4 linked regions of the Homo sapiens genome follow. The protein of the gene in region 1 purifies or fractionates together with the protein of each later gene. This does not show direct contact. Each region holds a gene or a part of one and is shown in the gene's direction. Other genes may lie near its edges. The genes, in order: ESRP1, RGPD3, HELZ and ATXN2.

Region 1 (7,028 bases):
GGATAAATACTGAGGGGCTGTGGGAAAAGGAACAGCAGAGACAACCCACCCAGTGTAGCCAATCATTGTTAATACACTGTCTCTTAACAACTTAAATTAGTTTGAGCTGTAACTTTTTATTGTGGTAGGCAGGCACCGAGCTTGAAAAGATGGAAGTAGAATATATTTAGGTACCTGTATAAGGCAAGGCTTGCAATGAAAGATGTAGACTGACAAATGACGACCCAGGCAAGTAAGTGCAGATTTTATTTCGTTTAATATATTATGACAATTCAAAAAGTTTGAAGGAGTAACTCAAGTTGTTATGTCTTCAGAAAATCATTCCTTTTATACGAGTCTTAGTAATTATTTGACAAAAGGGGAAGAATTTTTTTAAAAAATTAAATGCTAGACTAGTCGCTACATCCTTACCAGAAATAGTAATATGTAAGGATTACTTTTTTACTCCCAAACTCACATGACGGAAGGACAAGACTTAATCTTTTCCCTGTTGGGCCAGAGGAAAATAGCTGTTTTCATTATTTAGGTGGAGTGCTTTGGGTGTAGGAAAACATCTGGAGAAAAATTAAGACTTTTTCCTCAGCCACAGCTATTAGAATTTTGATTAAATACAGAAACTAAAACAATTAATGTTATAGTGAAAGTAATTCTGTATATTCGTTAAAGAAAAGGGAAAATGGCAAAACATGAAATAATCCTGCCACTCAATATATTAAAATGTTTTTCTCTAACATGAATGTATTTGGATATATTCTTCTAGATTTCTGTAGACAAGCATTATTTACAAAGAGCATTCATACGGCGTAAGCCTTTTAGCCTACATTATTTAATAGAACATCAACATTGTTATAACCACTAAATAAAATACTCAGTATTTTAAATGGACACAACAATTTAAACTGATTATTGTTGAACATGTGAGTTATTGTCCTTACAAATAGCTTTTAAATGAGCATTTTTGTAGGTAATAGGGAGGTTTCATGGTTCTTTTGGTTGTTAACTTTTTTAAAAGCTGTGACCATGATGCAGCAATACTGATTTCAAAATACAGCATGAACAGGTCACATCTAGTAAAATCCAATAGAAGGAACTTGGAGAGGAGATATTTTGCATGAACATTTAACATTTAAAAGTCTTAATTTCCTTGATGTTCTAATGTAAAAATGGGTAAAAATTCCCAGCAAATTAACACAATTTCAAAATTTTAAGAAAAATCTGAATTGAGTTTTTAAAAGGATTATCTTTAAAAGTTATCCAATGCTGGGTTATTTTGTTAAGAAAAAAAAAAACAAAGGAAACAATAGTGTAATATTTGTCCAGACAGTTGAGCTTTGCTTCGTAGCCACGGTAGTGGTCCTAATAGCTAAGAACAGCAGGTAACCATTTCTCCTTTGCCTTTGGGATTTGTGAGTTTGTTTTTGTTTGTGTTTGAAGTCTAATTTGAGTTCACAGGTACAGCTACAATATTGTTCAAGAAGACTAATGTGGGACTATTATTTGGCACAGAAATAAGCCTTTTCAGTTAATCAGGAATTTACTATTCTAATCTCACTTATTACTGAAAATATGCATTATTAGAACCCAATAGTTAGAACTACCCAGTTTTACAATCTAATCCCACACCTGTGTGAAAACTGAAAGGGCTGCTAGTGCTGCCTGAAAATACAGATGTTCTAAAATGGTTATGGCTGGAAAAAATTAGTATTAACAGCCAGAAAATATGAAGTATAACAGCACAAATGTATCACAGCTTCAGAATTGTTTTGAATGGAATGCATACTGGAGCACAAACATTGTAATCCACTGCCTTAAAACAAGAGGAATTTTTTTCATGAGACTTGTACATAGGATCTAATATAGAAACAGGACCAACTTTTAAAAATAAATCTACTTTTACATTAAATTTTAAATTTTTCCATTGTAAAATATGCTTATATTCAATTTTTAGGTTCCTAATTGTGAGAGAAACATTGAACCAAATTCACCTAGTTAACATTATCTACCTTGTCCTTCCTCAGAATGTACTATTACCTGAATGCTTCTATTCCTTTTTTGATCTTCGAAAAGAATTCAAGAAATGTTGCCCTGGTTCACCTGATATTGACAAACTGGACGTTGCCACAATGACAGAGTGTATCCTTTAAATCATTACTCAAGAATCATTTGAAAAGATAGTTCCAGAAAAGGTAATTCAAGAAACTTTCAAACATTTTAAATTTTGTCAGCATATGGATAAAATTGGCCTATCCAAAATTTGTTTACTCTGCTGAGAAACTAAAATACAATTATAGACATCTTTGAAAGTGGTTATAATTAATCAGATGGTTGGACGGATTTGGAGATGGATTTTTTGGTGGGGTGATCACATGTAGAATAGGATTCAGTTTCAGCTGTGTAATGTGTGTGTGTGCTGCAGAAAGAACATGAAGACTTTAGTGCAGATTCTAAGGCCACTTTTTCTTGGTTACTGTGATTTTAGGGTTTATTTTGGCTTCTTTGGAATGAAGTCAATAATTTTTTTAATTGGTGGATATATCCCCTTTACAAACTGCTGTTCACTGGTCCCGCTTTTAGCCTCCCCTGAGTTTTTCAAATACAAGATTATGCTGATTATAATAAGCCATCTTTGGAGATGATAAAATGGGGTCTGGATTGTCCCCCACATTCTTTAGTTACCAAAATAATATATTTGATGCATGATATATTGTAAAAGTAATTTTATAATTACAAATCTATAATCATGAATGACCCGTCATCTTACATTCATTAAGTCTTTCAAATGCTAACTAATAAGCAGGCGTGTGCTAATATATCAGATGTAAAGTTGAGTAATTGTTACCTTGAGTGGCTTCCCAAAAGCCACTGTGAGAGTCATCATGAAGTTAAAACTAAGTTAACTTCAGTAGCTTGTGGGTTGTAGATGCTTATTCCCAAACTTTCTCATTCATTTTCAGGAATTAAAACCTGGTTTTTGTGTTACTTCACGATTTTTTTTCCTGATTGAAGTTTGCTCGCATATATTTCATAACTACTTGTAAACAGGTCAAATCCGTTTTCATTTGCCTTCTTCTTGGAGTCAGTTAGCTGGAATTTTGGCTTAGCATGACCAGTAGTGTTGGGAAGAGGGTGGAATAAGCTCATTGTGACAGAATTCTTACAAGAATTTTGTTAAAAAGGTTAGTACACCAGAAAAATTCTCACTGGTTTTTCTGTTGGGTTGAATGTTGTATTAGACAGCTCAAGCTTCCATAACAAATACCATAGACCACGGAGCTTAAACAAAAGAAATTTACTTTCTCACAGTTCTGGAGGCTGGGATGTCCAAGATCAGGGTGTCAGCATGGTCAGGTTCTGGTGATGGCTCTTCCTGGCTTGCAGGTAGCCAGCCACCTTTTCTGGGGGGATAGCAGGAGGAGTTATCTTCTTACAAGGTCACTGCCCTATCTAATTAGACCCCTCCACCCTTTGACCATCATTTAAACTTAACTTCTAAAGACCCTCTCTCCAGATAGTTACATTGGGGGTTGGGCTTCAACATAGGACTTTGGGGGAGGTGGAGGACACAATTCAGTTCTTAAGTATATATTAAACTTTTTAATGTGGATAGTTGGTCTTCCACAAAATAGAGAACCAGAGTACCTACTGAAAAATTAGAAGGCAGTGGAGGAAAAATCTAATAAGCTATCTTAATTTAGAAAAAGACAACTTCTGGCTGGACATGGTGGCTTATGTCTGTAATACCAGCACTTTGGGAGGCTGAGGAGGGAGGATGGGTTGAGACCAGGAGTGCTGACACCAGCCTGGGCATTATTGCGAGAACCCATCTCTACAAAAAGTAAAATGAAATAAAAATATTTTAACAAACGAAAAAGATAACTTCAGTAGGAAAGGAAGTATATTAAGGATTGTTGTGCCAGGGCAATATAGAGAAACCCCATGTCAACAAAAAATAAAAAAATTAGCTGGACGTGGTTGCATGAGACTGTAGTCCTAGCTACTTAGGAGGCTGAGGTGCAAGGATTGCTTGAGCCCAGGAAGTCGAGGCTGCAGTGAGCTATGATTGTGCCACTACACTCCAGCCTGGGTAACAGAGCAAGACCCTGTCTCAAAAAAAGTGGATTTTATTCTTAAATGTTTTAATATTTAATATCGTACTTGTACATGTCTTTCTCATTTAACAAGTTAGAAATGCTAATAAGCTTTCTTAGCAACGGTTTTTATGTTATATTGCTGCTGTGGTGAGTTATTTTATGACTACTATTCAGAGGAATACTTATTTCCCTGTCTAGGCTACCAGACCAATTTCTGAGGCTAAAAGCAATTATGTCCAATCTGAATATCAACTTGTGCTCATCTATGCAAAGTATTTCTACAATGTCTGAATTGAATTGTTCCGTTCTTTCAGAGCATTAAACATTTTCCTTGCCAATATGGAAGTGACGCTGAATTGGGAGATCTGTAGTCATTAAACATTCTTGATGGTTTTGCCAAGTGGACAGAAGGTCATTTGCTCTTGAGGAATTACCTGTTTCACCTGGTAAACCAGTGGGGGAGGGAAAGGGGCTTCTGTAAACACCTGGAGAAGAGCAGATAAGAGAATGTGCAGGTTGAAGTGTTTAATTTTTTTTGTCGTGAAATACTTGTATCCTTGATTGGTTGTTTTAAACGAGGATACAGAAATATCAATTTGGACCCTCAGTGATGTCACAATATTCTAAGTGTTTTGGAAACATGCTTTATTAACTTTACATCCAAGTAAATTTAAAATTTTTAACAAAAATCCATTTTTGGCTGGGCACGGTGGCTCATGCCTGTAATCCCAGCACTTTGGGAGGCCGAGGCAGGTGGATCACTTGAGTTCAAGAGTTCAAGATCAGCCTTGCCAACATGGCGAAACCCCGTCTCTGCTAAAAATAGAAAAATTAGCCGGGCATGATGACGCACATCTGTAATCCCAGCTACTCAGTAGGCTGAGGCAGAAGAATCACTTGAACCCAAGAGGCAGTGAGCCGAGATCATACCATTATACTCCAGCCCAGGTGACAGAGTGAGATTTAAAAAAAAATTATTTTTCAAATTTTGGAGATGGGTCCTCATATTTTGCCCTGGCTTCTCTCAAACTCCTGGCCTCAAGCCATCCTCCTGTCTTGGCCTCCCAAAATGCAGGGATTATAGGTGTTTGCCACCATATCCTGGCCTCATTTATTTTTTAATTAGTAGGCTTTATTTTTTTGAGATGTAGTCGTGCTATGTTACCCAGCCTGGTCTCAGACTCCTGAACTCAAGCAATTCTGCCTCAGCCTCTTGAGAAGTTTGGATTACAGGTGCATCTGCTATACCTGTAATCTCAACTTTTTATTATTATTATTATTTCTTTCTTTGAGACAGAGCCTCCCTCTGTTACCCAGGCTGGAGTGAAATGGCGTGATCTCGGCTCACTGCAACCTTCGCCTCCTGGGTTCAAGCGATTCTCCTGCCTCAGCCGCCCAGGTAGCTGGTATTACAGGCGCCCGCCACTATGCCTGGCTAATTTTTGTATTATTAGTAGAGATGGGGTTTCACCATGTTGGCCAGGCTGGTCTCCAACTCTTGAGCTCAAGTTATCCACCCATCTCGGCCTCCCAAAGTGCTGGGATTACAGGCGTGAGCCACTGCACCCGACCCCAACTTTATTTTTTAGACCAGTTTTAGGTTTAGAGCAAAATTGGGCAGAAAGTATAGTGTTCCTATATAACCCTTGTTACACACATACATACACACTCTCACTCACTCCCCCACTGTCTACATGCTGCACCATTGAGCAGAAAGTATATTGTTCCTATAGAACCCTTGTTATTCTCTCCCTCTTCCTCTCCCTGCTCCTTCCCTTCCTCTCCTTCTCTCCCCGTGCCCCCTCACTGTGAAAGTGCTGTACCAGAGTGGTACATTTGTTACACCTGATGAGCCTACATTGACATGTCAATATTACCCAAAGTTCATAGTTTACATTGGGGTTTACTTTTGGTCTTGTACATTCTATGGATTTTGACAAACGTATAATGACATCTATCTACCATTGTGGTATCAAAATACATTGTAGCAATAGCATAGTATAGAATTTTTTTGTTTGTTTTGTTTTTTTTTACCTGCTACCTTAAAGTCTTTTATCCCTAATAGAATAGTTTTATTGCCTTAAGAATCCTCTGTACTTTGGCCAATCATTCCTCCCTCTCCCTTAACCCCTGACAACCACCAATCTTTACTGTCTCTGTAGTCTTGGCTTTTCCAGGAGGTCATATAGTTGGAATCATGTAGTATGTAATCTTTTCAGATTGTCTTTTTAGCCGGTAATATGCATTTAAGATTACTCCATGTCTTTTTGTGGCTTTATAGTTCCTTTTTAGCACTGAATTCCATTGTTTGGATGTATGGTTTGTTTATCCATACACGGTTTGTTTATCCAAACATGGTTTGTTTATTCGCCTACTGAAGGACATCTTGGTTGCTCTCAAGTTCTTGCAAATATGAATAGTGCTGTTATAAACATCACGTGCAGGTTTTCATATGGACATAGGTTTTTTAAATCATTTTTATTTTTTTTTGAGACGGAGTCTTGCTGTATTGCCCAGGCTGGAGTGCAGGGGCGCGATCTTGGCTAACTGCAAGCACCGCCTCCAGGTTCACACCATTCTCCTGCCTCAGCCTCCCGAGTAGCTGGGACTACAGGCGCCCGCCCATGGCTAATTTTTTGTATTTTTAGTAGAGACGGAGTTTCACCATGTTAGCCAGGATGGTCTCGATCTCCTGACCTCGTGATCCGCCCGCCTTGGCCTCTTAAAGTGCTGAGATTATAGGCGTGAGCCACCACTCCTAGCCTAGGTTTTTTATTTATTTTGGTAAGTACCAAGGAGTGTGACTGCTGGATCATATGGGAAGAGTGTCATTTTTTATATCTCACTGCAATTTTTGTGTTTAAGGCAGACTTTTTTCCAGGGGGAATGGTGAGGGAAAGCAATGAGGCCTTGCATTTAAAAAAACAGTATGTGGAA
Region 2 (7,028 bases), on another chromosome or scaffold:
TTGACGATTGGTTATTATGACCACCTCTCTTACACTTAGAGTCTTTTTTTCCCCCAAATTGAAAGTCATTTACATTAGAACCTGGGGATTTCAGCGGAATATGGATTAACTAGTGAGTAACTTTGGAACATGTGAAGCTATTCTGTGAAGTTAGGTTTGAGTGAAATGACAAAACAGGGTGCTTTGGATAGAAGGTAAAGAATGGAGGGAGAAGAGGCAGTGGCTGTGAAGAATATGAAGAGGTTAGTATTCTCCCCCAGTTTGGCAGAGGCTGGCCATCTGTGAACTGCCCATGCTTTCTAGAATGTCGGAGTTTTGGAGTGTGATGATGCGTCTGTATATCATATCTTTCTAGTCTTCCATTGTGCTTTCATTTGTTAGTCTCCTCTTGTTTTGCCATTTTTCTACTCCCTCACATGTGCTTTTGCCCTTCTTAAAAATATTCTTCGTCTGTAATCTGAGCACTCTGGGAGGCCGAGAGACCAGCCTGACCAATATGGTGAAAATCCATCTCTATTAAAAATACAAAAATGAGCCGGGCGTGGTGGCAGCGCCTGTAGTCCCACCTACTCGGTAGGCTGAGACAGGAGAATTGCTTGAACCCTGGAGGCAGAGGTTGTGGTGAGCAGAGATTGCACCACTGCACTCCAGCCTGTGTGACAGAGCGAGACTCTGTCTCCAAAAAAGAAAAAAAGAAAAAAATATATAATTTTTTCTCTAGTTTTTCTTTTTCCAGATGGCTTCTGTTTAGTTTTTCTATGTTCTGTCAAGTCGGTTTCTTATTCTGCAGCTGATTCCTACTTCTCAAAGTCTACTTGACAGCTCTTATTTTTATTTATATTTTTTTTAGAATAGGGTCTTGCTGTGTTGCTCATCAAATTTTTGGGCATAAATGATCCTCCTACCTCTGTTTCCTGAGTACTTAGGACTACAGGCAGGCACCTTTGACAGCTGTTAGTTGTTTTTTCTGCCCTTTACATCTATACTTCATACTTCTGAGTAACACACATATATACTTTTGTTATTTTTAATTCCCTTTCTCCCATTTTAGACATTTTCTTTTCTTTTTTTTTTTTTTTTGAGATGGAGTCTCGCTCTATCGTCCAGGCTGGAGTGCAGTGGCGCGATCTCGGCTCACTGCAAACTCTGCCTCCCGGGTTCACACCATTCTCCTGCCCCAGCCTGTAGCTGGGACTACGGGCACCCGCCACAACACCCGGCTAATTTTTTAGTGTTTTTAGTAGAGACGGGGTTTCACCGTGTTAGCCAGGATAGTCTCGATCTCCTGACCTCATGATCCGCCTGCCTCAGCCTCCCAAAGTGCCGGGATTACAGGCGTGAGCCACCGCGCCGGGCCCCATTTTAGACATTCTGTACTGGCTATTATGCTCCTCCAAAACTGTCCTCAGACACTTTGGTTTGCCCCTCATTCTTTCAGTACTGTTATTGCAGTTTTTGTTTAAATGAATATTTAACATTTATATAAATATAAGGTAAATATTTTGCATTTGAATTGCCCTTGTTGTGCAGTTTTGTTTTTCCTGGACTGAATAATTGCTTTATTTTTTGGTTTGCTTGTATGTTGTGTTACTACTTGCTTACTTAAACTCAGCAACTTAAACCCTCAAATGTGGTCAAACTGGTCACATAATCCGTTCAATTTCAGCTTAAAACATTGATTGATTGATTGATTGTCTACCTGGAATACCCTTACTAACCGACTTCTCCAACCTGGATTGGGTTTTCTTCCTCTTTGCTACACAGCTGTGCTCTTGGGACTTCCCTTTATCACCAGTTTGAGAATTCCCTTCATCTTTTTTCTGAGTTAGACCCTTTGTTTCTTGTATCTCATGTCATCTTCATTTACTTTCTTTGTTTTGGTGTAGCATAGTCTCACTTGCTTTGAGGAAAAGTGGATGAGAGGTTTTTTTGTTTGTTTTTGTTTTGGGACAGAGTCTTGCTCTGTTGCCCAGGCTGGAGTGCAGTGGCATGGTCTCAGCTCACCACAACCTCCGCCTCCCGGGTTCAAGTGATTCTCCTGCCTCAGCCTCCTGAGTAGTGGGATTACAGGTGTGCGCCACCATGCCCGGCTAATTTTTTCTATTTTTAGTAGAGATGGGATTTCACCATACTGGTCAGGCTGGTCTGGAAACTAATGGTATGTCTTTAAAATGTCTTTACTTAATTTAGTTGATCATTTGGTTATCGAATTCTGAGTTTGAAATAATTTTTTTCGCAATTTTGAAAGCATTGCTCCATTTTCTAGAAGTTCTGTTGTTAGGAGTCTGATGAGATTCTTGTTCTTGGTAACAAAGGTTTTCTGAAAGTGTCCTTTCAATTGGGAAACTCATTTCTTTCAGTTCTGTAGCATTTCTTGTATTATTTCTTTGACCATTTCTTACCCTTTTTTTTAATGATGTTTACCTGAAAGCTGGAGTTTCTCTAATTTTTCTCTTATTCTCCTCTTTTGTTTGTTCTGCCTTTTGAGAGATTTCCTTACCCTTATGTTCCAGGGGAAGAAGATTGGGGAACTCATGGTTCAGTATCTAGACTTTTCCTCATTGTCCTGTATAATCACGGCCTTCACCCTTGTTGGGACTCCACAGATTTGGAGCTGATCAGATGGGTTTGTTGAGAACAGCAGCTTTTTTGGAGGATTTTAGGGGGAGGGAGATTCATTTGACTGTGCAAGATGGGTGACAGAGCGAGACTCCGTTTGAATTTAAAAAAAAAGAGAAATTCAGAACTGCATAATGAAAAAGTAGGCCACAAATGTTAAGTTTTGGACAATTACAATTACATCTCTATCTTACTGTGCAAGATAGCGATGATGTGGCATCTCTTAGGGTCTTACTGTTCCTGTTTTCAGCCCTGCATCAGTTCTTGATATTTGGCAGCTTAAGTGAATTCAGGTATTTGCTTATAGTGACATCTGCTGTCATGCAAAGAAGTACTGCTTGAATCAGATATTGTCCTGTTTACATAACATGGGCTGTGCTCCTTCCTAGCTATATATCTTTAAACAAGGCATTTGCCTGCTTGAGCTTCAGTTCCCTTGTAAAGTGAGCAGGTTAGAGGCAAAAGATCATACAGAAGAATAATTTGTAAAGTTGTTTAATTATCTTAAGATTGTCTACTTTAATAACATAGTTGGAAGCAAAGAAGGTAATGGAATTATTTTTCTATTATGTTTTGGCATTGTACCTTGAATCTATTTCTTCATTTTGAAAAGGGGGAACTGGCCGGGCTCCGTGGCTGACGCCTGTAATCCCAGCACCTTGGGAGGCGGAGGAAGTCAGATTACAAGGTCGAGAGAGCGACACCATCTGGCCAACATGGTGAAACCCCATCTCTACTGAAAATACAAAAATTAGCTGGGCATGGTGGTGTGCGCCTGTAGTCCCAGCTTGTACCTGGGAGGCAGAGGTTGCAGTGAGCTGAGATCGAGCCACCGCACTCCAGCCTGGTGACAGAGCAAGACTCCATCTCAAAAAAAAAAAGGAAGGGGGGAACAAGCCTTGTTCTTTTACGTGCTGTCCTGACTGTTGTGTATTATTTTTGTTAAGATTGCTATAGTTCTTTTTTTTTTTGAGATGGAGTCTTGCTCTGTTGCCAGTGCTGGGATTGCAGGTGTTAGCCTGGCATTGAGCAACGTTTTGTAATTTAAGCATACAAGTCTCTCACCTCCTTGTTTACATTTATTCCCAGGCATTTTTTTCATTTAGATGCGATTGTAAATGGAATTGCTTTCTTAATTTCCTTTTCTGATTGTTCGTTGCTGGTACAGTAGTCCCTTCTTATCCACAGTATTGCCTTACGTGGTTTTACTTACCTGCGTCACCCGTGGTCCAAAAATATTGAATGGAAGATTATATAAATAAACATTTCATGAGTTTTAAATTGCAAACAGTTCTGAATAACATGATAAAAATTTCACGGCCTCCTGCTCCGTCCTACCTAGGACACAAGTCATCCCTTTGTCCAACATATTCATGCTGTATGTGCTCCCCACCTGCTAGTTACATACTAGCCATCTCAGTTATCAGATCAATTGTTGGAGTATTGCAGTGCTTGTGTTCAAGTAACCCTTATTTTATTTAAAATGGCACCAAAGAGCAAGAGTAGCGATGCTGGCAGTTCACATATGCCAGAGAGAAGCCATATAGTGCTTCCTTTAAGTGAAGAGGTGAGTTTTTGACTTAGGAAAGAAAAAAGATCATATACTGGGGTTGCTAAGATCTATGGTAAGAACAAATCTTTTGTCCATGAAATTGTGAAGAAAGAAAAAGAAATTTGTGCTAGTTTTGTTGTGACACCCCAAACTGCAAAAGTTACAGCCACAGTGTGTGATAAGTGCTTAGTTGAGATGGACAAGACATTAAATTTGTGGGTGGAGGACACAAACAGGAAACATGTTTCGATTGATGGCAACCTGGTTTGGTACTATTCATCGTTTTGGACATTCACTGGGGTCTTGGAATTTCAAAAATAAGATGTTTGAGTAGCTGTATACTCTGTATCACATGGATGGAACATACTCTGGTTGTATCAGCTTTTTTTTTTTTTTTTTTTTTTTTTTTATGAGATGGAATCATTCTGTTGCCCAGGCTGGAGTGCAGTGGTGCGGTCTTGGCCCACTGCTGCCTCCCGGGTTCAAGCGATTCTTTGCCTCAGCCTCCCAAGCAGCAGGGATTACAGGCGTGTGCCACCATGCCCAGCTAATTTTTGTATTTTTAGTAGAAAGGAGGTTTCTGTATGTTGGCCAGGCTGGTCTCGAACTCTTGGCTTCAAGTGATCCACCTGCCTCAGTCTCCAAAAGTGCTGGGATTACAGGTGTGAGCCACCGCACCCAGCCTGGTGTGCATCAGCATTTTGGACTTTGGAGTTTATGTAACCAAGGAGCCAGGCTGTGGACCTTGTTTATTACTTGAAGAATTCAATATTTATTTCTGCCTTTTTGACTCCTTGACTGTAAAATACTGATCTGATCTGTAGAGAGAACAGTACATGTACTATTGAGGCACAGGGAATCCTCAGTGCCTTAATAGATCCTAAGTACTTACTTATTCTTTCCCATAGAGGCTTTTACACATGGTAGGAGAAGAGATTTCTGGAATACCTTTCCTCCCCAAAGAAAGCTGGTTTCTTTTGTTTGTTAAGTGAGAGAGTGGTACCACAGGGTTTCCAAGATTTCCAAGGCTGATGAAAATTCTTAACTTCTGTTGTCTGCTTGTCTTGCTTTCTTGAATTTATTTTTTGTATGTTATGTATTTATTATTTAGAGAGAGGATCTCCCTGTGTCACCCAGGCTGGAGTGCAGTGTCACAGTCATAACTCACGGCAGTGTCAACCTCCTGGGCTCAAGTGATTCTCCTTCCTTGGCCTCCTGAGTAGCTAGGAACACAGGCATGCTCCACTATGCCTGGCTATTTTTTTCCCCCTGGAGACAGGATCTTGTTGTGTTGCACAGGCTGGTTTCAAACTCTTGGCCTCAAAGCTAGCCTCCCACCTTGGTCTCTGAAAGTGCTAGAATTAAATAGAATTAAAGTTGTGACCAACTGCACCCAGCTTATTTATGATGATGATGATGATGATGTTTGGGAGATGGAGTCTCTGTCGCCCAGGCTGGAGTGCAATGGCACAATCTCAGCTGACTGCAACCTCTGGCTCACTGCAACCTCCACCTCCTGGGTTCAACTGATTCTCGTGCCTTAGCCTCCCGAGTAGCTGGGATTACAGGCACCCGCCATCATGCCTGGCTAATTTTTCTATTTTTGTAGAGACGGAGTTTCACCATGTTATAACGCCAGGCTGGTCTCAAACTCCTGACCTCAGGTGATCCGCCCACTTCGGCCTCCCAAAGTGCTGGGATTACAGGCATGAGCCGCTGCACCCAGCTCTATTTTTTGTTTTGTGATAGGAAATTATAAAACATGGAATTATGCATTTGTCAGGCTTTAAAAAAAACTTTTAAGTGAATGAAAATGGCATATTTGAACATAAACTTAGGGCAGATTTTTACTACTTTTGAAAAAATGTTGGAAAATATTTCTGTATGAAACGTAAAACAACTTTTAATTTTTTTTAGAAGTCAACGAGAGGATTCTATTTTGCAAAGCTGTATTATGAAGCTAAAGAATATGATCTTGCTAAAAAGTAAGTACAAACTGTAACATGTATTCTTTTTTTAAAATCAATGCCTTTTCTCATTTTCTTCTTTGAAATAGGTAAAAATATATCCTTAGTAGTTCTTCCTAAGTGTATTCTGGAATAAGGGATTTATCACTCAGACTGATGCTAAGGACCAGCCTAGATTCCATTGAGATTGAAACCGTAATTAGTGTTTTCTGCATGCTGCTGCTTTATACCAAGGGCAAGAAATTGTTTGGCTTAAAACACTTTTTCTAAAAATTGTCTTCTGTTGAAGTAAAAGAGGACCATGCCTATATCTTAATTTGTTTTTGGTTAGATATCTGATACCTTAATCAGATGGAAAATAGCAATGAATAAAAAATTAAACTGTAATTGTAAGGCAGGAGAATAGCTTGTATAAAAGATGTTTAATTGACACAATATGTGATGCTCTAAGGCTCTATCCTAGGGATAAGAAGCTTGGTGATTCTGATTTCCTGACTGGGAGTGGATTAAAGCAGGAAATTAAGAGGGAGGCAGGCTTTTTTTTTTTTTTTTTTTAGGCAGTATCTGTCTCTCTTGCTCAGGCAGGAGTGCAGCAGCTGGCTCCATCTTTGCTCACTGTAACCTCTGCCTTCTGGGCTCAAGAGATCTTTACACCTCAGCGCCCCAAGTAGCTGGGGATACAGATGCGCACCACCACGTGGACCTGGCTAAGGTTTGCATTTTTTGGTAGAGACAGGTGTCACTATGTTGCCCAGGCTAGTCTTGAACTTCTGAGCGCAGCAGTCTGCCTGCCTCGGCCTCCCATAGTGTTGAGACTACAGGTGTGTGTTACTGCTCCCAGCTGGGAGGCAGGCTTTTAAAGGCATCCAAAGGAAGATGGAAATGCTGGT
Region 3 (7,028 bases), on another chromosome or scaffold:
AGGCGTGTGCCACCAAGCCTGGCTGATTTTTGTATTTTTTTTGTAGAGATGGGGTTTCACCATGTTGCTCAGGCTGGTTTTGAACTCCTGAGCTCAAGCAATCCTCCTGCCTTGGCCTCCCAAAATGCTGGGATTACAGATGTGAGCCACCACACCTGGCCATGGCCATTTGTTAATGTGAAATTTACTTAGGTTGTGGTGATTGAAGTTGACAATACTTTATGTAAAAAGTAGAGCATAAAATAGATAAAGAAATGTTAAATTGTTTTAACCTTTCTGAAAAATATTATCTTCATGTAATTCTTATGTAGAATTTATGAATAATTCATAATGAAGGGCTAACCTTTCAAAATTTAATAATTATTTATTAATGTGGAAGGAATGATTAAAGTTACAGTTAAAATGGTAAACTCTTCGGTTCTTTTTGTAAGAACTTGTAACTAGTGGGATTTTTAGATATAAATTCTCACCGCCTCTTTAGATTACTTTTGATAGCGAAGGAAATTTGCTACATGGTTTTGATTATTGAATAGTCAGGAAACTAATGTGTAAGTATTGAAAATCCTAGTGGTGTTATGTTGTAGAAGAGACAGAACACAATCCTATGAAAAGGAAATATGAGAAGATTTGAAGTACAGATAAGAATATAACACTTTCACTTTTTAGGGAAATAATTTAAAGCCAAGCAATAGAAAGACAAAGATTTGGCCCATTAAGACATATTGAAAAGAAACATAAAATGATTTTAAATGTGTCTTCAAAAGTGTAAGAGAATTTAATAAATAGTATAATTTTAAGTTCAAGTACTTTGTTGTACCATCAGGAAAAGTTTTAAATATACTCATTTTTTCAAATACGGTGAACCATTTGAAAATTCATATTGTGCTGTGGTTCATTTCTTATTTCTTACTATCCATATTTTTTCCAATTGAAAAATGGTCTGTAATATAACATCTCTCTTTTGCTATTTATAGTTTTATATTATATTTACATTTAATTATGTATTTTTTTTTATTTTTGAGACAGAGTTTTGCTCTTGTTGCCCAGGCTGGAGTGCAATGGCATGATCTCGGCTTACTGCAACCTCCGCCTCCCGGGTTCAAGCGATTCTCCTGCCTCAGCCTCCCAAGTAGCTGGGATTATAGGCATGTGCCACCACCCCGGCTAATTTTCTATTTTTAGTAGAGACAGGGTTTCTGCATGTTGGTCAGGCTGGTCTTGAACTCCCGACCTCAGGTGATGCGCCTGCCTTGGCCTCCCAAAGTGCTGGGATTACAGGCGTGAGCCACTGTGCCCGGCCATTTAATTATATTTCTAGTTTAATTTTCATTTTTTCTCAGAAGATCTTTTATCAATGTTTTTATTATTTTTATTTAAAAACTGGCTTTGCCTATAATTTTGCAGGGTATTTAAAACTTTTTTAAAAAGTTAATGCCATCTCAAAAAAAAAAAAAAAAAGTTAATGATCAGGGCCGGGCATGGTGACTCATGCCTGTAATCCCAGCTCTTTGGGAGGCCAAGGCAGGTGGATCACTTGAGGTCAGGAGTTCGAGACCAGCCTGGCCAACATGCAACCCCATCTCTACTAAAAATACAAAAACTAGCCGGGCATTGTGGTGGCAGGCACCTGTAATCCCAGCTACTCTGAAGGCTGAGGCAGGAGCATCCCTTGAACCCGGGAGGCAGAGGCTGCAGTGAGCCGAGATCGTGCCACTGCGCTCTAGCCTGGGCAACAGAGCGAGACTATCTCCAAAAAAAAAAATTATCAAAGTATTTTATTTTTATCTGTTTTTGGTCACTGAATTGTCAGTTGAATTTTCCGAGTTGTAAACGTCGAGAAATCATTGACTCTCTGTCCTTTAAAATGAACATTTATAATTTATTCCCTTGAATTTAACATGACTGTTGAATAAATTTGTGACTCTGTAATATAAAACTTTGATTCTAAATTTATTTAAAGCTTCAAGCAAGTTAATATATTTTCACTGAAATATAGGTAATAGTAATGTAGAAAAGAGTAAAATCACTATGTTTAAAGGTGAAAAGTAAAAGCCTTAAAATGGTAATTAGTCATATGTTAACTGTTTTTTCAGAATGAAATTCCCATATATAGAAAATTTTTTTAAGGTCCTTATCATTTTGGGAAGTAGGGTATACCTGTGTGTGAGCAGCAAATCCACTTGATGTCAGTATTGCTTAAAAAAATCCTACTCTGGCTGGGCGTGGTGGCTCACGCCTATAATCCCAGCACTTTGGGAGGCCGAGGCGGGTGGATCACCAAGTCAGGAGTTCAAGACCAGCCTGGCCAAGATGATGAAACCCCGTCTCTACTAAAAATACAAAAACTAGCCAGGCGTGGTGGCGGGCGCCTGTAATCCCAGCTACCCGGGAGGCTGAGGCAGAGAATTGCTTGAAACCAGGAGGCAGAGGTTGCAGTGAGTCGAGATTACGCCACTGCACTCCAGCCTGGGCAACGGAGTGAGACTCCGTCTCAAAAACAAAAAACAAAAAATCAAAAACAAAACCCAGTTACACTAAGAGGAATTGTCTAGTAAGAGTCCTTATATGACCAAGGAAGCTACTTTTCAGTGCCTCTTTTGGAGGGCCGACGTGAATACCTATGCCTTAGGATCCCCTAATTCCAGAGAAAGTCAGTGAATAATATGGGGAGCTGATGTTTTGGTTAACTGTTGTAAATGTTCTCTAAACCTCTTCTCCCTCCTTTGTACAAGACAGTACGATAAATATGGCCTTTCAGCACATGAAGTTTTGTTTTTATTGAAGAATCAGAGGGCAAATGCTGGGAGTTTATTTTTAAATGGTTCAACAAAGTATATGATAAAACAGTCTTTCCTATTCTACTTAGATTTTTAGAACAAGGAATCTGTAGGTATGGTGCCCAGTGTACTTCAGCACATTCCCAGGAAGAACTAGCAGAATGGCAGAAAAGATATGCTTCACGGCTGATAAAATTGAAACAGCAAAATGAGAATAAACAGCTCTCAGGCAGTTACATGGAAACCTTGATAGAAAAGTGGATGAATTCATTGTCTCCTGAGAAAGTGGTGAGGAAAATAAGCTACATTATTTTTTGTTTGTCTTAAACAATGAACTTGAGTCTTGACTTTATTGTGTGCTCTATTTTGGTTTATTTCCTTATCTTCTTTGCAAAGAACTTGATTCTGATAGAATGATGTTTTTAGTAGCTATAGTAGACCCATTTGTTAAAATGAAGAGCAGAACTAAACCACTTGTTTGGAGATTTGCCTGTACTGTATTAATTACCTTCATTCAGGCAGTTTTTGAGTGCCATTTTTGTGGTGGTGGTTAATTTTCTTTTCTCTCTTATTTTAGCTTTACTATATTTTGTTCTTGTCAAAATTACTGAAAATGAAGGTATAAAATACTTTGGTCTGTAAACAGTTCCATCATCATCTTAACTGTTGACATTTATTTTCCATGCTAAAAGATTTTGTTTGTGCCCTTAGCAATAAAAACATAACATAAATTGCTGTCTGTTTTCAGCTTAGTGAATGTATAGAAGGAGTAAAGGTAGAGCACAATCCTGACCTGTCAGTTACTGTCAGCACCAAAAAATCCCACCAGACATGGACCTTTGCTCTCACTTGTAAGGTATGAATTTTGTGCTAGTTAAAGCATAAAAGTTGTGTTTAATTTTCTGAACGTTTTTTTGACCTTTGAATCTCTGTGTTAAAGAATATTGAAAATATTTTAATCTAAGTACATTATATATAGGTTCTATATTGTACTAAAGTATATTTCTGTACTTTGATCATTAAAAGTACAATTTTAAAAATACTTTTAGATGAGATCTTTGTAGATATTTAGGGTGCTTTCATATTTATTTATTTGGTAAAGAGATCTTTGACATATTGTCTTCTAAACTTGGGACATAGGATGGGGTTCATGGCTTGTAATTAACTACTTAAAAATTGTTTATTCTAGTAGTTCTAAGATTTTTAAACCATAACAACTTGTTTTTATATTTGATATGATGAAGTCACAAATTCTGTGATAATGGGTTTTTAATATGGGGCATTTTCTGCAGTGCTTCCCATCTTAAATTATAGTAGTCAAAGTTTAAGATCGAAGCAAAGTAAAAAGTTTCTGTGAGTATGCTCAGTGGAAAAGTTTTTGTCTTTTTTGTGGCATTTCTTCTGCTGTACTTTCTGTATCTGGAGATGAAAAATCTAAGAACAGTTAGCTTCAGCCTTGAACCCAATCCAGTGCTTTCAGAGGTAACTGCCCTCTTACGAAGGCTTCCTACTTGAGGCTACATGAAACTTCTGTAGGTGAAGAGTATGGAAAGTTTGAAGGTTGATGGTTATATAGGGTGATAGCTTTTGCCACAGTGAAAAATGAACATGTCACAGGAAGAGAAGGGAGGCTAGCGATATAGCATAAATAAATAATTTTAACAACTGATTTTAAAAAACCATTCTGATTTTTTTCTTAAATGGCTATAGTATCTTAGAAGCTTGGGGAAGTAAAAGTCCCTTATGGAAATATTTTCATTGAAGAGCCCAATTACAATTGGATTTTTCACCCCCTTGTACTCAATGAATTATTTTAACTTCCTTGTAGCCTGCAAGAATGCTGTATCGTGTAGCATTGCTTTATGATGCTCATCGTCCTCATTTTAGTATCATTGCAATATCTGCCGGAGATAGTACTACCCAGGTATCACAAGAAGTCCCAGAAAACTGTCAAGAATGGATAGGAGGAAAGATGGCCCAAAATGGATTAGATCATTACGTGTATAAAGTCGGGATAGCATTTAACACAGAAATATTTGGAACTTTTCGCCAAACCATAGTTTTCGACTTTGGATTGGAACCAGTACTCATGCAAAGAGTAATGATTGATGCAGCTTCTACAGAAGGTAATATTTAGACTTTTTTCCCCCGATACAATGTGTTAAAAAGCAACATTCAAAGATATGTATTGGCCCCTGAATATATTCCATGGATAGGAAGAGAATAGTAATAAAGAAAAAAATCCCAACTTAATTGACTCATTTACTGTGTAATGGGCTTATAATGATTCACACTGTGCCCTGATTTCTTCACAGAGCCACCAGGTAAAGCTTGAACTTTGAGGTTCCCCAAACTTGTATGAGTAGATGATCAGACCTGTTTTGGTCTACCAGTTTCATTTCACAGTAAGATGGTTTTAGCACAGTAATATCTTTCAATATTAGTTTGGGTAGAATATCATTTTAATGGTAATTGTGTATATACCTACAATGTTTATTTTCATGTCCTATTGACTAGTTAACTTTGCTGATGTTAGTACATTGTTTCTGAATGAAAAGTCTTGAGTATAATAAGCCTTCATAAATCAGTTTGTGCATCCACTAGTGTTAAGGAGGCCAAGGGTGCCTTTAATCAAATCTGCTCTTTGTTTTTGGGAAGAGGTCCCTGGTTTCATCATGTAAGCATGACATAAGGAATTACTTTGTACATTGTCAATTTATTGCCTATATCTAAATTTTATGCCAAGATCCAACAGGACAAAGAAAGGACATGTTAGCCCACATTTCCTTTGCTCTTGGTTGGATTTATAGGTGTTCTATTCTATTTAACAAAAACTTTTTATTTAACAAACACTTCAAAAAGCAGAGCTGTGTGAAACTTGCTTTTGTATTGACTATAACTAACCATATTGTGGAGGACGTTTTTTACTATGTACCATAATGTCCCATTCATGAGAACCTAGAAGTAGTTTTTCTCATTAGCGAATGCTAGAATTTTATTTTTTTTCACATAGTGAAAAGGTGAAATTGGTCTGTCTTCCTCTTTACTTTAGCTGCTAGTAAGGTTGAAACAACGATGGTGCCCAAATTTAACAGTTAGGTGACATCTTCTTCTACGTGTGCTAAGATTACCCAGACTTCACTTTACCCTTATTTCCCACTGACTTTGATCCCTTTTACTTGTTTTTATTCTGTAGTATGTATTTTTGTCATCTTTTCAGTACTCTTTGGAATCAGAATAAATTAATTTCCATAGCTAAATAGATATGGTAGTTGATAAAATAAAAATAAAGTATTTGGCTTATATATATTAGCATAGTATTTGGCAAATTCTTTCTGCAGAGGGCCAGACGGTTAATATTTTAGGTGTTGCAGGGCAGGTGATCTCTGTTGCAACTACTCAGCTCTGCGTCGTAATGAGAAAGCAGCCATAGACAATGCATAAGCAAATGGGTGTGACTGTGTTCCAATAAAACTTTATTTTCAAAAACAATGGCTACATTTGACTTTCGTGTTGTAGTTTGCCTACCCCTGAACTAGTAAGTTGCTTTTAGAGACCAGACCTTGAGAACCACTAAGCAGCATCCTTTTTAAATCATAAAGAGATTTAAGTCATAAAGAGAGAACAACATACATTTCCTACTCTCAAATATAACTGTAAAGGATGTTCTTGGCTTACATGTGGGTTGTATTTTAGAAATTTGCTTGTAGGTTAGTGGCTTATAACTCAGACTCCTTTACCCATAGAAATGTTTGTAAGTGCTGTCAAGAATTCTTATTAGTTAGTAAAATATTTAATTAATAATATAAAATGTTAAATGTCTGCAGTAAAATGTAAAAGAACGATAGTATTAAAACATGATAATTAGAAAAGGTGGTGATGAAAAGGAGCTCAGGGTACTTTCATAGGCTTGAGAAGAGTAAAAGTACTTTGACTACTTCTGCCTCAGATACGAGTTACTTTTCTTGTTGGAGAAGAGCAGAGGACAAAAATCAGAGTCAAATAGAATAGGATTTGAATCCTGATTTTCGACTTATTGCCTGTGTGAGCCTGGGCAGAGTACTTAACTTCTCTGGGCTTCACGGGGAAACATCTGTAAAATGGGGCTAGTAATACCTGTCATAGATCATTGTGACAACCTGAAGCCTCGTACGACATCAGGCTCATAGTAGACGTTTAGTTAATAGTAGCTATTATGTTTATAATTAGCCTTGATTAGGATAATTTCTGGCTTATACACAAAAGGAAGAA
Region 4 (7,028 bases), on another chromosome or scaffold:
CTGCCTTTCAAGTTTATTTAGGACCCCAGAGGACTTTACCCACGGTGGTGGGGCTTACCAAAATTAAGATTCTTTTGGTTTTTTTTGGCAGAGTTTCGCTCTTATTGCCCAGGCTGGAGTATAGTGACGCAATCTCAGCTCACCACAACCTCCGCCTCCCGGGTTCAAATAATTCTCCTACCTCAGCCTCCTGAGTAGCTGGGATTACCGGCATGCGCTACCACCTCTGGCTAATTTTTTTGTTTTTTAGTAGAGATGAGGTTTCTCCATGTTGGTCAGGCTGGTCTTGAACTCCCGACCTCAGGTTATCCGTCCGCCTCGGCCTCCCAAAGTGCTGGGATTACAGACCATAGTGCCCAGCCCGAAATTCAGATTCTAATCACTGGGATGGACAATTCCCCTCTGACTAGGGCTAGTCTAAATACTCCCTCTGTGGGTGCTGGCTGAATTCTGTCCTATGCTGCTTTCCACTGTGACAGGGCAGCACTGAGTTTCAATGCAAAATCCCACAGTCATTTCTCTCTCTCTCCCCCGAGCACACAGATTCTTTCTCCACCCCACACTGCATTGTGGGGGAATGTCAGGGGTGTTGGAGGGGCAGTTCAAGACTATCTTCCTTATCTTTTTTGGTGTCTTTTTCCTTGATAGGATGTCAAAACTGGGTACTGTGATCGCTTACCTAATTTTTGGTTCTTATGAAGGTGCTTTCTTGTGTGGATAGTTGTTCAATTTGGTGCTCCTTGTTGGGGATGATCACTGGAAGGTTCTGTTTGGCCACCATGCTCTGTCTCTTCTCCCCTGCCATCTCCTTTTTTTACTTAGGGGTTTAGAATGTCTAACTGACCAATATGTACAGTCAGGTCTCATTCTGAATTCACCTACTTAATGACCTTCCAAGCTGACTAGGCCCAGCGCTTAGTCCAGCCTCCATGACGGTCCCTCCACATCCTAATTAGCCTCCCTCCAGTTCATTTCACACAAAGCTGCTGTGTTCACCTTTCTGAACTATAAATCTGCCCAGTACTCTACCCTACTTAAAATTCCGTATAGACTGCCCATTTGCCCTGAGAATTAAAAGCCAAAGTCCTAAACGTAGCTTTTTAAAACTTTTTTTTTTTTTTTTTTAATTTTTAGATGGAGTCTTGCTCTGTCACCCAGGCTGGAGTGCAGTGGTGTGATCTTGGCTCACTGCAACCTCCGCCTCCTGGGTTCAAGCAATTCTCATATGTCAGCCTCCCAAGTAGCTGGGATTTACACGTGTGCCATCACGCCTGGCTAATTTTTTTTTTTTATCTTTAGTAGAGACGGAGTTTCACCATGTTGGCCAGTCTGGTCTTAAACTCCTGACCTCAAGTGATCCACCTGCCTTGGCTTCCCAAAGTGCTAGGATGATAGGTGTTAGCCACTGCACGCAGCCCTGAACATAGCTTTTAAGTTCCTTTATTGTCATATTCCTTTTGACGAGTCTATCATTTTCTGACTCACTTGTACATGTGTGTCTCACCCTTGGTCCAGCCATTGGTGCTTTTCTTTACTTCTTTATTTTTGTTATTTTATTTTATTTTATTATTATTTTTTAAATGAGACAGGGTATCACTATGTTGCCCAGGCTGGTCTTGAACTCCTGAGCTTAAGCAGTCTGCTTGTCTCAGCCTCCCAAAGGGCTGGAATTACAGTGATGAGCTACTGTGCCCAGCTCATTGGTGCTATCTTTTTTTTTTTTTTTGAGACGGAGTCTCGCTCTGTCACCCAGGCTGGAGTGCAGTGGCGTGATCTTGGCTCACTGCAGCTCCACTTCCCAGGTTCACACCATTCTCCTACCTCAGCCTCCCGAGTAGCAGGGACTATAGGCGCCTGCCACCATGCCTGGCTAATTTTTGTATTTTTAGTAGAGATGGGGTTTCAGCGTGTGAGCCAAGATGGTCTCGATCTCCTGACCTCGTGATCCGCCTGCCTTGGCCTCCCAAAGTGCTGGGATTACAGGCGTGAGCCACCGTGCCCGGCCCCCATTGGTGCTATTGTTTTATGTGATAGAGCCAGCTTCTCCCTTTTCTTTGGATTTTTAAACATACTCTTCCTTTTACTTAGACTATTCTCCATCCCAACACCTTTCCTAAACTTCTTTCACACCTTAGACTAGCTGACACTTTACTGAGAAACCTTTCTTTTTTATAGGTTGCTTTTTCTATAGACTCTCTTAGCATTTACTCATTTTATTGTGAAGTGTCTGATCTTATTTAAATGACAAGTATAAGAGGATAGAAACTATTTCATATTTTTCTCACCCAGCAGGCACAATTTCTGACATGTGGTAAGCACTCAGTAAATATTGAACTTTAGAGGCTAGGACATTTGAGTGCTTTGGTGACTGTGGTTGTGCTATATAGGTACTCTGTTATTGTTAGTTTATAGTAAAAGCATTACTCTTAAAGTATGAAAAAAGCCTTATTCAGAACATTTCATGCGTATAGTTAATATTACGTAGCTTGTGCTCATGGCAAAAATGTATTACTAAAGTTATTTAAGATATTTAAGTATAATTGTTTCCTTTATTTAGTTACAGCCAAGTTCTACTTCTGAATCTATGGATCAACTACTAAACAAAAATAGAGAGGGAGAAAAATCAAGAGATTTGATCAAAGACAAAATTGAACCAAGTGCTAAGGATTCTTTCATTGAAAATAGCAGCAGCAACTGTACCAGTGGCAGCAGCAAGCCGAATAGCCCCAGCATTTCCCCTTCAATACTTAGTAACACGGAGCACAAGAGGGGACCTGAGGTCACTTCCCAAGGGGTTCAGACTTCCAGCCCAGCATGTAAACAAGAGAAAGACGATAAGGAAGAGAAGAAAGACGCAGCTGAGTGAGTAAACCTGGAACTTAGACCATCCTGTTACTCAATTAACTTTTTTTTTTTTAAAGGCATTTAGGTCCTTCCAACTGTGAAGAATCCATCTGGACTTTTAGACTACTTTATACATTGCCCTTAGTTTACAAACAGCTAGTCCAAACAAATGACATCTTAAGTAAATGAGGTTATTGCACCCTGTGCTACTCTTCTGTTCTTCCCCTTTTTTGTACCCCAGGGCTAGAAAAACAAGGCATAAATTAAGAAAAGTTTTTCTGTAAATGAACAGGAGTTGAAAAATTATCAATTCAGGGGACCTATCTTTACTGGATTCCACTCATTAGTCACCCTCACTGTGCTGCTAGGTTGAAAAACTGCCACTGTCAAGGAGAGAAGCATGCGGTGCTTCTACTTGGAATTCAAAATATTTTTCATCAGAAACTGTGTTTTAGTTAATGTTTAGATTTGTTAAGATAGACTTAATTCTGCACATTCAGTATATTAATTAAATGGACTTTTAGGGGCTAACCTCAGAACTTAACTACCATTGACTTAGGTGTTTGGGTACCAAACAATCCAGTTAAAGCTGAAGTTTTGGAATGCAGCTTATTGATAAATTGGGGACTGCTTATTCTTGATTTGAGGCAATTTTTTTTTACAGCCATGACTTTTTCCAGGTATGTCATGTAAAATATCTTCTCACATAAGAATTACTGCATGCTAGAATATTGGTATGTTGACTGGTAGCTCATACCTATAATCCCAGCACTCTGGGAGGTCCAAGCAGGTAGATTACTTGAGGTTAGGAGTTGAAGACCAGCCTGGCCAACATGTGAAACCCTGTCTGTACTAAAAATACAAAAATTAGCCAGGCATGGTGGTAGGTGCCTGTATCCCAGCTACTCGGGAGGCTGAGGCAGGAGAATTGCTTGAACCCAGAAGGTGGAGGCTGCAGTGAGCCGAGATCATGCCACTGCACTCCAGCCTGGGTGACAGAGCGAGACTCTGTCTCAAAAATAAATAAATAAATAAATAAAAGGATACTGTTATGTTAAGAATTGCTTTTAAGGATATTTCATAAGTAGCTACTGTCTTTTCAGCTCAAGTGTTTGTTGATTGGCCAGGCGTGGTAGCTCATACCTGTAATCCCAGCACTTTGGGAGGCTGAGTCAGGCAGATCACTTAAGGTCAGCGTGGCCAAAATGGTGAAACCCCATCTTTACTAAAAATAAATATTAAAAAAAATTAGCTGGGCGTGGTGGCAGTCTCCTGTAATCCCAGCTAATCAGGAGGCTAAGGCAAGAGAATGGCTTAAACTCGGGAGGCAGAGGTTGCAGTGAGCCAAGATTGCACTGCTGCACTCCAACCTGAGCAACAGAGTGGGACTCTGTGAAGGAAAAAAAAAAAGTATTTTTTGATTGCCTTTGAGAGGAACGGTTGTATATTACTCAGATTTTTAAAAAATTGTTCTTTTATGGCTGTATTCTTTAAGGGATTAAGGAATGGGCAATATAAGTGTATATGTTTCAATAAAAACGATTAGTGATCTTCTAGTGAGAACAGTTTAAATCTATATTTAGCAATTTTTTTTAAATTGTCAGGTATGGAAGATTTTAGAGCAACGTAAAGTCCATGTAGATTTCACTGGCCTTTATATTTTTTTTAGGCAAGTTAGGAAATCAACATTGAATCCCAATGCAAAGGAGTTCAACCCACGTTCCTTCTCTCAGGTAGGTTTATTACTTTCTTTGAGGTTATCTAGTCCCAAAAAAAGAAAAATTATTAGTAATAGTCCTTCTTCCATACCTGCCATCTGAATTTTGTTTTAGTGTGCTGAACCAACCTTCTTTCTTTTTTTTACATGGCCATTAATGAATACTTTTTAAACATTAAAAAAAGGTCTTTGTTTTGTCATCAATTAGATGTGATCTTGGGCAAATCTTTGAATTTCTCTGACCCAGAATTTGACGATGGTTGGCTAGCTAGGCTGTCAGGTTTATAGATACGTCCTCTGCACCTGAGGGTTTTGCATCACTGGATTCAACCAACCATGGATCAAAAACATAGTTAGGATAATCTATACTGAACACATGCAGACGTTTCCTTGTCATTATTCCAAAACAATACAGTAAAGCATTTACCTTGTTTTAGGTATTATAAATAATCTAGAGATGATGTAAAGTATATAGGAGGATATGCATAGGTTGTATGCGAATACTACATGATTTTATGTAAGGGACTTGAGCATTCCAAGACTTTGGTATCTTCACAGGGTACTGTAACCAATCCCCCACAGATACTAAGAGATGACTGTACTATTGTTATTATTCGACTGAGATCATAAGAAGATATATTTATTTTTAATTTTTAAAAACACTTCCATCAGTTTCTTAAAAATAGCTGCCACTGTTTTTAATATTTTTTAATTGACAAAGTTTTAAGTTCCTACTGAAACATTTTTTCTTTTATTGAAATGTGAAAATTTATGTGCTGTGTTTTTGTTTTCAATAAAAGGGACATAGTTAAAGCAAGTAAAATTAGAAAGACTGGGAAAATCCGTCTTTAAATTGCAATAATAGTTCATCTGTTACCTTGAGATAATTGAATTTATTGTTGTTTTTGTAGCCAAAGCCTTCTACTACCCCAACTTCACCTCGGCCTCAAGCACAACCTAGCCCATCTATGGTGGGTCATCAACAGCCAACTCCAGTTTATACTCAGCCTGTTTGTTTTGCACCAAATATGATGTATCCAGTCCCAGTGAGCCCAGGCGTGCAAGTAAGTCATAGAATTTGATGTTCACTTAGCCTCCCCAATTGTTTGTATCTGACACCAAGCACTCTTTAGGTTTTCAGTGACTTGAGGGTGTGATGGTTATGCATATGCATTTGAAACAGACAGGCATGCAGAGATTCAGTGTGTTGTTAAGTATGAGGACCTAAATCTGAGAATGTTTTCTGTGAAAAAGATGGTTTAGATTTACTGTAGTTTGGGGTTTGTTCCTTTTAGCTGTGGGTATGATCTAATTTTTTAATGACTAATGGAGAATCAGGAAACCTTCTCATGCCTAGCTCTCTAGCAATATAAAACTAAGAGTGACAGAATACCTTGTTATTATCATAGGTGCCTAATGTTAATTTTTTTTTTAATTCTCTCAAGCCTTTATACCCAATACCTATGACGCCCATGCCAGTGAATCAAGCCAAGACATATAGAGCAGGTAAAGGTGAGAATAATCCTGCCTGTGTTTGCTTGTAGTTTGCATGCTGCATGAATTGAGTAACTAAGTTTATAATGAATAAATAGTTGTAGTTTAGCTCTGACTTTTTGATGAGGCTATGCATTGGCTTTTGATGAACAACATTACATAGATATTCACATGGATTTTATGAAGAAAAACAGGGGAGAAAAAATGCCCATCAGTTGTGATTATATAGTATCCTCTTCAAAAAGAGTAATTGGAGGCCTGGTGTGATGGCTCACACCTGTAATTTTAGCACTTTGGGAGGCCAAGGCAGGAGGATTGCTTGAGCTCAGGAGCCCAAGATCAGCCTGGACAACAGAGACTTTGTCTCTACTAAAATTCAAAAAAATTAGCTGGGCATGGTGGCATATGCCTGTAGCCCCAGCTGTTTGGGGGACTGAGGCGAGAGGATCACTTGAGCCCAGGAAGTAGAGGCTGCAGTGAGCTGTGATTATGCCACTGCCCTCCAGCCTGGGCGACAGAGTGAGACCCCGTCTCAAACATAAATACTGGCTGGGCATGGTGGCTTATGCCTGTAATCCCAGCACTTTGGGAGGCCGAGGTGGGTGTATCACCTGAGGTCAGTAGTTTGAGACCAGCCTGGCCAACATGGCGAAACCCCATCTCTACTAAAATACAAAAATTAGCCGGACATGGTGGCACCTGCCGCCTGTAATCCCAGCTACTAGGTGGGGCTGAGGCAGGAGAATTGCTTGAACCCGGGAGGCAGGGGTTGCAGTGAGCCAAGATCGTGCCACTGCACTTCAGCCTGGGCAACAGAGTGAGACTCCATCTCAAAACAAACAAACAAACAAAAAACAAACAAACAAAAAAACCAGACTAATTGGCTGGACACAGTGGCTCCATGCCTGATATCCCAGCTGGAGGATGACTTGAACCCATGAGTTCGAGAGCAGCATGGGCAATATAGTGAGAC

What was found.
Region 2: the proteins of ESRP1 (region 1) and RGPD3 purify together in Homo sapiens (affinity purification with mass spectrometry; 2 studies listed by BioGRID and IntAct, with this or other methods). This does not show direct contact.
Region 3: the proteins of ESRP1 (region 1) and HELZ purify together in Homo sapiens (affinity purification with mass spectrometry; 2 studies listed by BioGRID and IntAct, with this or other methods). This does not show direct contact.
Region 4: the proteins of ESRP1 (region 1) and ATXN2 purify together in Homo sapiens (affinity purification with mass spectrometry; 2 studies listed by BioGRID and IntAct, with this or other methods). This does not show direct contact.

Annotation. Positions count from the first base shown.
Region 1 is NC_000008.11:94,644,150-94,651,177, forward strand, and holds part of ESRP1 (epithelial splicing regulatory protein 1), read left to right. Parts: intron 1-2,018; coding exon 2,019-2,133; intron 2,134-7,028. UniProt on the Homo sapiens protein: mRNA splicing factor that regulates the formation of epithelial cell-specific isoforms. Specifically regulates the expression of FGFR2-IIIb, an epithelial cell-specific isoform of FGFR2.
Region 2 is NC_000002.12:106,458,393-106,465,420, reverse strand, and holds part of RGPD3 (ranBP2-like and GRIP domain-containing protein 3), read left to right. Parts: intron 1-6,088; coding exon 6,089-6,156; intron 6,157-7,028.
Region 3 is NC_000017.11:67,186,194-67,193,221, reverse strand, and holds part of HELZ (probable helicase with zinc finger domain), read left to right. Parts: intron 1-2,866; coding exon 2,867-3,065; intron 3,066-3,525; coding exon 3,526-3,633; intron 3,634-4,605; coding exon 4,606-4,903; intron 4,904-7,028. UniProt on the Homo sapiens protein: May act as a helicase that plays a role in RNA metabolism in multiple tissues and organs within the developing embryo.
Region 4 is NC_000012.12:111,484,310-111,491,337, reverse strand, and holds part of ATXN2 (ataxin-2), read left to right. Parts: intron 1-2,557; coding exon 2,558-2,862; intron 2,863-4,513; coding exon 4,514-4,577; intron 4,578-5,472; coding exon 5,473-5,625; intron 5,626-6,006; coding exon 6,007-6,073; intron 6,074-7,028. UniProt on the Homo sapiens protein: Involved in EGFR trafficking, acting as negative regulator of endocytic EGFR internalization at the plasma membrane.